3 separate regions of the Homo sapiens genome follow, and regions 2 and 3 are each linked to region 1. Evidence: fine-mapped expression QTL. A gene starts in region 1. Each other region holds a variant in brackets. All regions are shown on one strand. Distances are from middle to middle. Region 1 holds the start of FAM50B (family with sequence similarity 50 member B). Region 2 has its middle 60 kb from the start of CDYL-AS1. Region 3 has its middle 27 kb from the start of FAM50B.

Region 1 (2,761 bases):
TTCCGCTCTGGCAGGCGGGTGTTAGCGGATGGTGTACTTGTCCCACTTCTTCTCGGGGTCATAGGCCTCCCAGCGGCTGGCGGGGAAGATGTGCTTGTTCTTCTCGTACCAGCTGCGCAGCACCACCTTGCCCGCGTGCGACTCGTCCTTCTCCATGGTGGCGTCGCTGAGCAGGCGCACGTCATCGTGCACATCGAAGCTGAAGAGCGGCCCGCTCTTGCCCCTCGCCCTGGCGATGATGAAGTCGTAGAAGGTGTGGTAGTGCGGCAGGATGAGGTCCTCCTTGATGAACATGAGCTGCTCCACGCCGGCGGAGCGCAGCTCCAGGAAGTCCTTGCGCAGCCCCTGCAGCGCCTTCTTCAGGAACTGCTGCACCGTGTTGCCCTTGCGCACCCGCACCGTGCGCCGGTGGCCCGAGCCGTCCCAGTAGCTGAAGGTGACCTCCATCTCCTCGTCCTTCACTTTCTCGCGCTGCGCCTCCCACTCTTGGCGCAGCTCCTCTCGGAGCCGGTTCTCCTCCTCCTCGCGGTCGCGGTCTGGCAGGAAGCTGGTGTCCACGTCGGGGTTCTTGCCCAGGTTTCCGGCGCGCCTGGCCTCGGCCGCGTCGGCCTGGTCATCGAGGTCGTCTAGTGCAAAGGACAGGCAGGAGATCTTACGCTTGCGCTCGCGCCGCTGCTCCTGCTCCCGCTGCCGCTCCTGCTGCAGCCGCTGCTCCTCCAGGTGCTGGCGCTTGGCCAGCTGCCGCTCGCGCTCCCTGACCAGGGCCTCCTGCCGGGCCTTCATGTCGTTCAGGGTCACCAGGCCCACCGTGCTGGACTTCAGCTCGGCCTCCACGGCGTCGTAATGCGCCGAGAACCTCTTGTCCACCTGCGACTTGAGGATGGTCTCCTCGGCGATGCGCTGCTTCAGCACCTCCATCTGCTCCCGCTGCCTTTCGCGCTTCTTGAGGAGGTGCATGGCACGGCCTGCCTCGCGCATGGTGCCCTTGTACTGCGCCATGGCCCGCGCCTACCCGATGGGCTCTGCAGCAAAGAGGAAAAACGCGGCAGGTAGAGGGGGGCCCACGCAACGGCGGGGAATGCTCAGCTCTGCGCCTCCTCACAGGGCTTTCGGCAGTGATGGAAGCGTTCAGGGGCTGGGCCGACCTGCTAGGGTAACCACCAACCTGACAGTGTCACCAGGCACCAATTTCCAGCATTTTATTTGACCTCAATAAATGCAAATGCGAACGGCCCCACGTAACGGGTGGCTGCCATGCCTGAGCGCAGCGCTGAATTTGGGGAGCTGCATACAGAGAGGGTTGGGCTACTGAGCGGACCCTTACCTGCCCAAGCACCCTGTCGAGCGGAGACACGCGGGAGCTGACCTCCACGAGAACCACCCACGAGCAGAGGCCCACTCGCCCCGGGCTCTCGCGACAGCCGTGGACACAGGAAGTGGAGGCGGTGCGCCCCCTGGCGGGGAGGCGGGCCCTGAGGAGAGTGCCAGGCTCCTGGTAGGGCGGCTGCGGAAACAGGAAGTGGAGGTGGATCGCCCCCTGGCGGGGAGGCGGGCCCTGGGAAGAGCTCCGGGCTCCTGGTAGGGGCGGTGCTCCTGTGGGGCGGGCCAGCGCGGGGAGGATCCTGGAGGAGGCGCTTCTGGCCCTGCCCAGCCGTGGCTGGCCGGGGCTCCTGTTTTCACGCTGTGGGCAGGGCGGGCCCCCACCTGCTGTGCGTGCGTGCTGAGCCTTCTCGTGCCCAACTGTAAACACGCAGAAGCAATGTGGGCGCAGCGCAAGCTGCTGTGGCCACCCAGAGAGCCTTGCAACACGGCCCTGCTCTCCAACCCTCCTCCTCCCGCCTCTGATGCTACCCCGCTGTGGCGTCTCGTGAACATTACCTGCGCACCACTGCCTGTAATTCTTTCTTATGGCCCCAACACAACCATTCTTTGATAATAGAACCCTACTCGCCCCCCAGTTTCGTGACAAAACCTGCACTCAGCTTGTTTGACCTCTTCTATACAGCAGTTTCCCCCGGGTTCTAAGCTCTAATAACCATGGGACACTGAGTTAAAGTGTAGCAGTGTCTTTACTGTGAGCCTCTAACATGCCAGTTTCCACTGTAACTCTCCAAGAGCAGGGCAGACCAGTTCATGTTTCGTGACCGTTTCTCCCCTGCAGGAGATCTGGTAACACTCGCCGAAACCAGTGCTTCCTGGGACCTAGTTTGGAAAAGCTGGTTGTGAAATACATACTGCGGTTCAGCCTCCTCCCGCCTAAGAGCAACAATGCCTGTGAGCATAACCTTACCAAGAAGCGTGAATCATATGATAATTACATATGGCACCCACATATCCAGAGGAGAACAGCACGGTGTGAGCCCTCATCAAATTGTCCAAGCCAGAAACCTAGGCCTTTTCCTGGAATGACGTTCCTCCACAGGTAATCAATTACAGAAGAGCCTTTCACACTTTCCTTTTTCTCCCATTCCCCACCACTTGCCTTAATCTAGGAAATTAGCATTTTTTTTAATCTAAAGCCTTCTCATTGTTGCCCCATCACCAGAATACAAGAATATCTTATTTTATTGAGCTCTGGGATACTGTGTGTTTTGTTTTTGTTTTTACAAATTGAAGATTTGTGGCAACACAGCGTCAAGCGCCTACTGGCTCCATTTTTCCAGCAGCATGTGCTCACTTCGTGTTCCTGTGTCACATTTTGGTAATTCTTGCAATATTTCAGACTTTTTCATTGTGATATCTGCTATGGTGATCTGTGATC
Region 2 (2,761 bases), 870 kb before region 1:
CCCAGGTTCCCACTGCCTGCTCATGCTTCCCTTGAATGCCCCAATGACTTCAGACTCATCATTCCCAGAACTGACCTGAACCTCCACCAAGTCTTTCCCAATGAGATGTAATCTTTCCCTCATTTGATTTTTCCATAGCTGTGTCCCTCTCTGGGGTGCCTATTTCATGCTACTTGTATGGTATCAATTTGAGCTCCTGTCTTTTTCGGCTTGCAGAATGAAAGCTCCTTGTCAGTGTCTTTGTCTTGCTCATTGCTAAACACCCTGAAGCACCTTGCTCCATGCTTTTTGTGCACCCAACACCGTATACGGTAAATAAATGAAAGAATGAACAGATGACTTCTTCAGGTTGCTAGCTCTCGTGGTATCTAGACTTGCCTGTTATTTCTTAGCAATGTAGAAAACCACTTTTGCATTCTATCTGGCCCTGTCAAGAATTCAGGCATCCCTTAGTGAAGATGAGGCAAAAAAAAAAAAAAAAAAAATTATTGCTGCCTTCTCTGACGCTTGTAAACACAGAGTGTAGGGTGTGCTATCAATTGACTTGGAGGAAGTGGAAAAGGAAAGGAAGCCAACGATGTCTCAGGTCATTAAAAGTTACTAAAGAGCAATGGGAGACACAAAACTAACCACTGCAATGAAATGGAAGTTCTGGCTACAAAAAATTTATTTAGGGAAGCCAGATAGGAGATTTAAAGAGAATGAAAAAAGAGGAGAGCTTGCGAGAGAGAAGGCGTTGTCCGAACAGCTAGAGTATTATGACTGGAATACCAGAAAGCTTATGTTGAACAATTTCTGACTACATATTGGTAAAGTCTTTTTTTTTTTTTTTGAGATGGAGTCTTGCTGTCACCCAGGCTGGAGTACAGTGGCGCGATCTCGGGCTCACTGCAAGCTCCGCCTCCCGGGTTCACGCCATTCTCCTGCCTCAGCCTCCCGAGTAGCTGGGACTACAGGCACCCACACCACGCCAGGCTAATTTTTTTGTATTTTTAGTAGAGACG[G/A]GGTTTCACCGTGTTAACCAGGATGGTCTCGATCTCCTGACCTCATGATCCGCCCGCCTCGGCCTCCCAAAGTGCTGGGATTATAGGCGTGAGCCACCGTGCCCGGCCAGTAAAATCATTTTTAAATAAAAGGGGCCTCTCTAAGAATTCTGCCTACTGCATCAGAACTAATTTGATTCCTGCAAGTTCTTACCGTTGTTTCTCTTCAGGAATAACTTTTGGGTTGGGCCCTCGTATTGCCAGTTTTTCTTCCTGCTTTTTCCCCAGGCTGACCTGTGGCTTGCCTGAAATGTCATAAAATTCTTCCGGGGGCTCTGTGTTCTCTGATGACCACCTGCAATTACAATCCCAACAAGAGGAATTTACTACAGTACATGGGAAAAAACCCAAGGCTCATGGCATTTAATGACTTTCACCAGTTCTACATTGAATCTGAGAGTGAGCCAGCATTTTGTGCTTGTGCAGAGGAAGCAATAAATGTCAGTAAGCAGTGCATCAAAAGTAGCAACACATTTAAAATGATAAGGAATAAAAAGCAATGTTTAAAGTAGTCAAACTTGCTCTTCTTCACCACAATATATGTCAATATGTTGGTTACCTGCAATTTATAATGACGTATTACAATACATGGAAGAGTAAGTAAGCCAAGTGGCCTGATACTTATCATGAGGTTGGAAGGCTATCATTTGCAGTCATGAAAATGTGTCTGCATTACAGCTTAAGGACCATCCCCTTTCCTTTTTTCAGCTTTTCTAGTAGACTGGTGGACACAGATGACAAGGAGGCGCGTCTTGTCCTCATGTGGTCTACAGTCTGGTAGGAAGACATAACTGACGTCTTATACAAAAGGTCTGAAAGCAGGAAGAAGTAACCAAATGCTTTAATGGAGACAAGGAAGTGAGTCATTCTCAGGTAGGGAGGGTGAGAGCCCAAGGCACAGAGGCACGAGAAAGCACGATGCATTTTCAGAGTGGCGAGTGGTTGGGCGTGCCTATGCAGAGGGTTTATGGAAACATGCCATTGGAGATGGTGCTGGAAAGTCTATACCTTTTGGACTTTGTTTTGGAAAAATAAAAAACAACTGAGGTCATTTCCTTTGGCTTTTAAGACACAAAAGTGAAAAAGTCACATATAAATTTAAAACTATTATAACATGTCATTTACAGCTGAGTGGAACCCTCACTCAGGTGGCGCATCAAGATTGCTGCTTGTCAATACAGACAACTGGGATAACCGAGGCCTCTAAACCAGCCAGAACACTCACGGATTCTGTAGTAGTCAGTCCTCAAGTTTGTTGGTGTGACCCTGAAGGCAGCGCTTCATCCTCTAACTTACCTACGCATCCACACTGGGCTCCATATGAATGGCAGCTGGTCGTCTACTTCACAATTTAACTTGGGATCAAATGTGCTCTTCTGGAAGCTGACTTTAAGGCAGGGAATGTTCAGGGTAGCTGAAATCTGCAGAAGCTGGCAGCCTGGGAGCATGGTGCTTCAATCCAGGGCTGGCCAGCAGCAGTGCTGTGATGGGGGCCCAGGTGCTCTTTGGTGTCCTGAACCATGATTATGTGTTTCTGTTGAGAGCTTATTATATACCAGGCATTGCACTGAGCATTGTTCATGGGTTCTCAGACTTAGTCTTCACAACAGTTCTGTGAGCAATCATCTAGAATCATTCTTGTTTGGATGAGACACTGCAGTTCATAAAGGTTAACTTCTCCTAAGTAATAAGTGGTGGAGCTGGGCCTTGAGCCCAGG
Region 3 (2,761 bases), 27 kb before region 1:
GTGACATATCCTGACTATACACACACACACACACACACACATATATACATACACTGACACACATATATTTGATATATATGTATATGTAGAGAGAGGGTGATGAAGCAATGTAGTGTTATTAACAATTATGAACAACTAACTACACAGTTGAAAACAATATTAACAATTGGGAAGTCTAGGTGAAGGGGAAAGAGAGCTTTTTGTACTGTTCTTACAACTTTTCTATACATTGGTAACCTCTTCTTAATCTACCTTCCAGGGTTTTTGAGACGACCAGATGAAATAATGTTAAATCTCTATTAAAAGATGTTTTAATGCAAACATATATAATTACCTTGATCATGTCTCATTTACTTATTAGCCATCTTCCTGCACGAGACCGTGAGCTCCATGAGAGCAGGGCCCCGCCCTTTACATCCTGCTAGATCTCCCTGCCTGGAACAGTGCCTGGCATAACAAATACCAAAATATATTTCAGTAAAAATACCCAAATATCTGTTGAGTAATAAATGAATCACAGAAATTAGGTCAATTTTACACTTACCACTATTATAATATCATGATGTATATATATGTTAGTAAAGAGAACTTAATCACCTTCAGTCTGCCCCTTAGAAATCTTAAAACCTATTTGGAAATCTACTAGCTTATTGATTTGTTATTAGAGTAATTACTGATATGTAACTAAAATATACTTCCACATAATTAAGTATATTCATTTGCATGATAGAATTTGATCACTTTCTTAATGTAGTGGTTGAAGAGAACTGTCATTTAAACAGTGCAGATAAAGCCCTGAGAAATAAGTATGCATTTCCTATTAGAGAAATGTTCTCCAAGAGACATTTAAAAGGACCTAGGATGAGGACCCAGCATGGCCCTGCGTGGAGCCGGGACTTGGGTTTTGTATGGTTGCATGAACTGCCACTGGCTGTTTCAGAATAAAGTGCTCTACAAAACATGTTTTCTAGCAGATAGTACCTTCTCGTCGTATAAAAGCTTGGGCAAATTTTCAGAGTGGACGCAAAGTCAAGCAGGATCATCAGCAAAGAGAGGGACCATAAACCAAGAAACATTTGTTCTTATCAGAGCCAACTCCGTGTGAATGATATTCCGCAGTTCGTCACTCCAGCTGCTGGAACAGAAC[G/A]TTCCAGGGAGATGGGATTTGCCCCATTGCTTTACTGGAAACAGTGGGCGGGGGTGCAGATCTGGTTCTTAGGAAAAGAAGACTTTAGCCCTGAAGAGCCAAGATGTAGTCCCAACGCCTCAGAGAATGTGTCTGGCATGAAGTGTAAGTAGCAGATGTAGCTCTTTTATTCCTTTCTAATAACACAGCCTACAGAAATCGTTCTTTCCTTTTTCCTATTCCTTTTCAAGCTGCTTCATGTACCTTCACCATCCCATAAGTCAAAATCTGCTCCTGCGATTCCCTATTTCTTTTTTTCTGTAACTAACTGGGGAAAATCCCTTATCACACTACTTTCCCTTCCTGCCTTTCATCCCTATAATTTCAGAATATGAACTTAAAATAATCTTAGGGAGAAACTGAGAAAGACTAGCAGTATAAAGGATATAAAATGTGGACAGCACATTCAAACACCAAGATTTCAAAGCTAAATAGAACGATGGATCCAGCAGTCTTAAATTCCTGAAGCACGGCATTTCTAACACGATACTGAGTAAAATATCTTTATCTGCGTATCTGGCTCTATTCGGCCTTTTTTCTCTCACTTACATTTTGAATTTCATCCTGTTGAATTTCATATCTCACCCTAGGTGCCTTAAATTCTGTGTGTATGTGCACCACCCACATCACTGCCCAATTTGGGAGCAGTCCTAGTTAACATTTTATTTACTACAGAATCATAAATAGATGTACTATAATATCAAAGGCACTTTCATAAGCCATCTGTTGACAATATTCTAGATCTTCTCTCAAGTCATATCTTATTAAAAGCCTGATTCATACAGAACAGATGTCCAACAGTAAGGAAATGGTTTAGTAAATGATGGTACATCAAGATCATGGAATATTATGCCATCATTAAAGTTATAATTATGAAATCTATTTTGGAACACAAGACTTTATACACTTTTATGAAAAAATACATAAGAAGTAGGTATTCTCTGCTTATAACTATGCTAAATATTGAAGTACTGGAAAAAGTTGAAGGTAATATGAAAAATGGTGAGGAATGTATTGTTTTAAAAATTATTTAATCTTGGCCAGACACAATGGCTCACACCTGTAATCCCAGCACATTGGGAGGCCGAGGCAGGCGAATCACAAGGTCAGGAGATTGAGACCCTCCTGGCTAACATGGTGAAACCTTGTCTCTACTACAAATACAAAAAATTAGCTGGGCGTGGTGGCACACGCCTGTAGTCCCAGCTACTCGGGAGGCTGGGGCAGGAGAATCGCTTGAACCCGGGAGGCAGAGGTTGCAGTGAGCCAAGATCACACCACTGCACTCCAGCCTGGGCAACAGAGTGAGACTTCATCTCAAAAAAAAAAATTATTTAATCTTGATGATACATTATCCTTAAGCAAACAAACAAACAAACAGAAACATAATTTGCAAAATTTCTGAAGGAAAGTGTGACCCATAGGGTGATCTGGAGCTTTCTTGCTTATGCACTAAATGCATTTGGTCATAACCCTGCCTGAGAACACTAGGGAGTTTTCTTCCTCCCTGTTTATATTATTTTAACTCTGTAAAGAGAGCTAAGTATGTCTGATTTGCCCAGAACTGTAAGTGGA

The links. PIP is the estimated chance that this variant, and not a neighbour inherited with it, causes the effect.
Region 2: its variant is fine-mapped to the expression of FAM50B in blood mononuclear cells (TOPMed, PIP 0.91).
Region 3: its variant is fine-mapped to the expression of FAM50B in fibroblasts (GTEx, PIP 0.99).

Annotation. Positions count from the first base shown.
Region 1 is chr6:3,848,050-3,850,810 of GRCh38, reverse strand. FAM50B (family with sequence similarity 50 member B) reads right to left here and starts at 1,438. Exons shown (of 2, transcript NM_012135.3): 1 at 1,325-1,438; 2 at 1-1,022. The coding sequence starts at 999. The coding sequence ends at 22. It overlaps LOC107986557 (a long non-coding RNA gene), which reads left to right and starts at 1,445. Exons shown (of 3, transcript XR_001743931.2): 1 at 1,445-1,495; 2 at 2,162-2,422. RefSeq lists an enhancer at 1,255-1,374 and a silencer at 1,645-1,764.
Region 2 is chr6:4,714,318-4,717,078 of GRCh38, reverse strand. It overlaps a transcript of CDYL not described here. Among named protein-coding and RNA genes, the nearest start is that of CDYL-AS1, 60 kb to the left of the region's middle. The variant G/A (reference allele first, on the strand shown) is at 1,005.
Region 3 is chr6:3,874,725-3,877,485 of GRCh38, reverse strand. No RefSeq gene overlaps it. Among named protein-coding and RNA genes, the nearest start is that of FAM50B, 27 kb to the right of the region's middle. The variant G/A (reference allele first, on the strand shown) is at 1,148.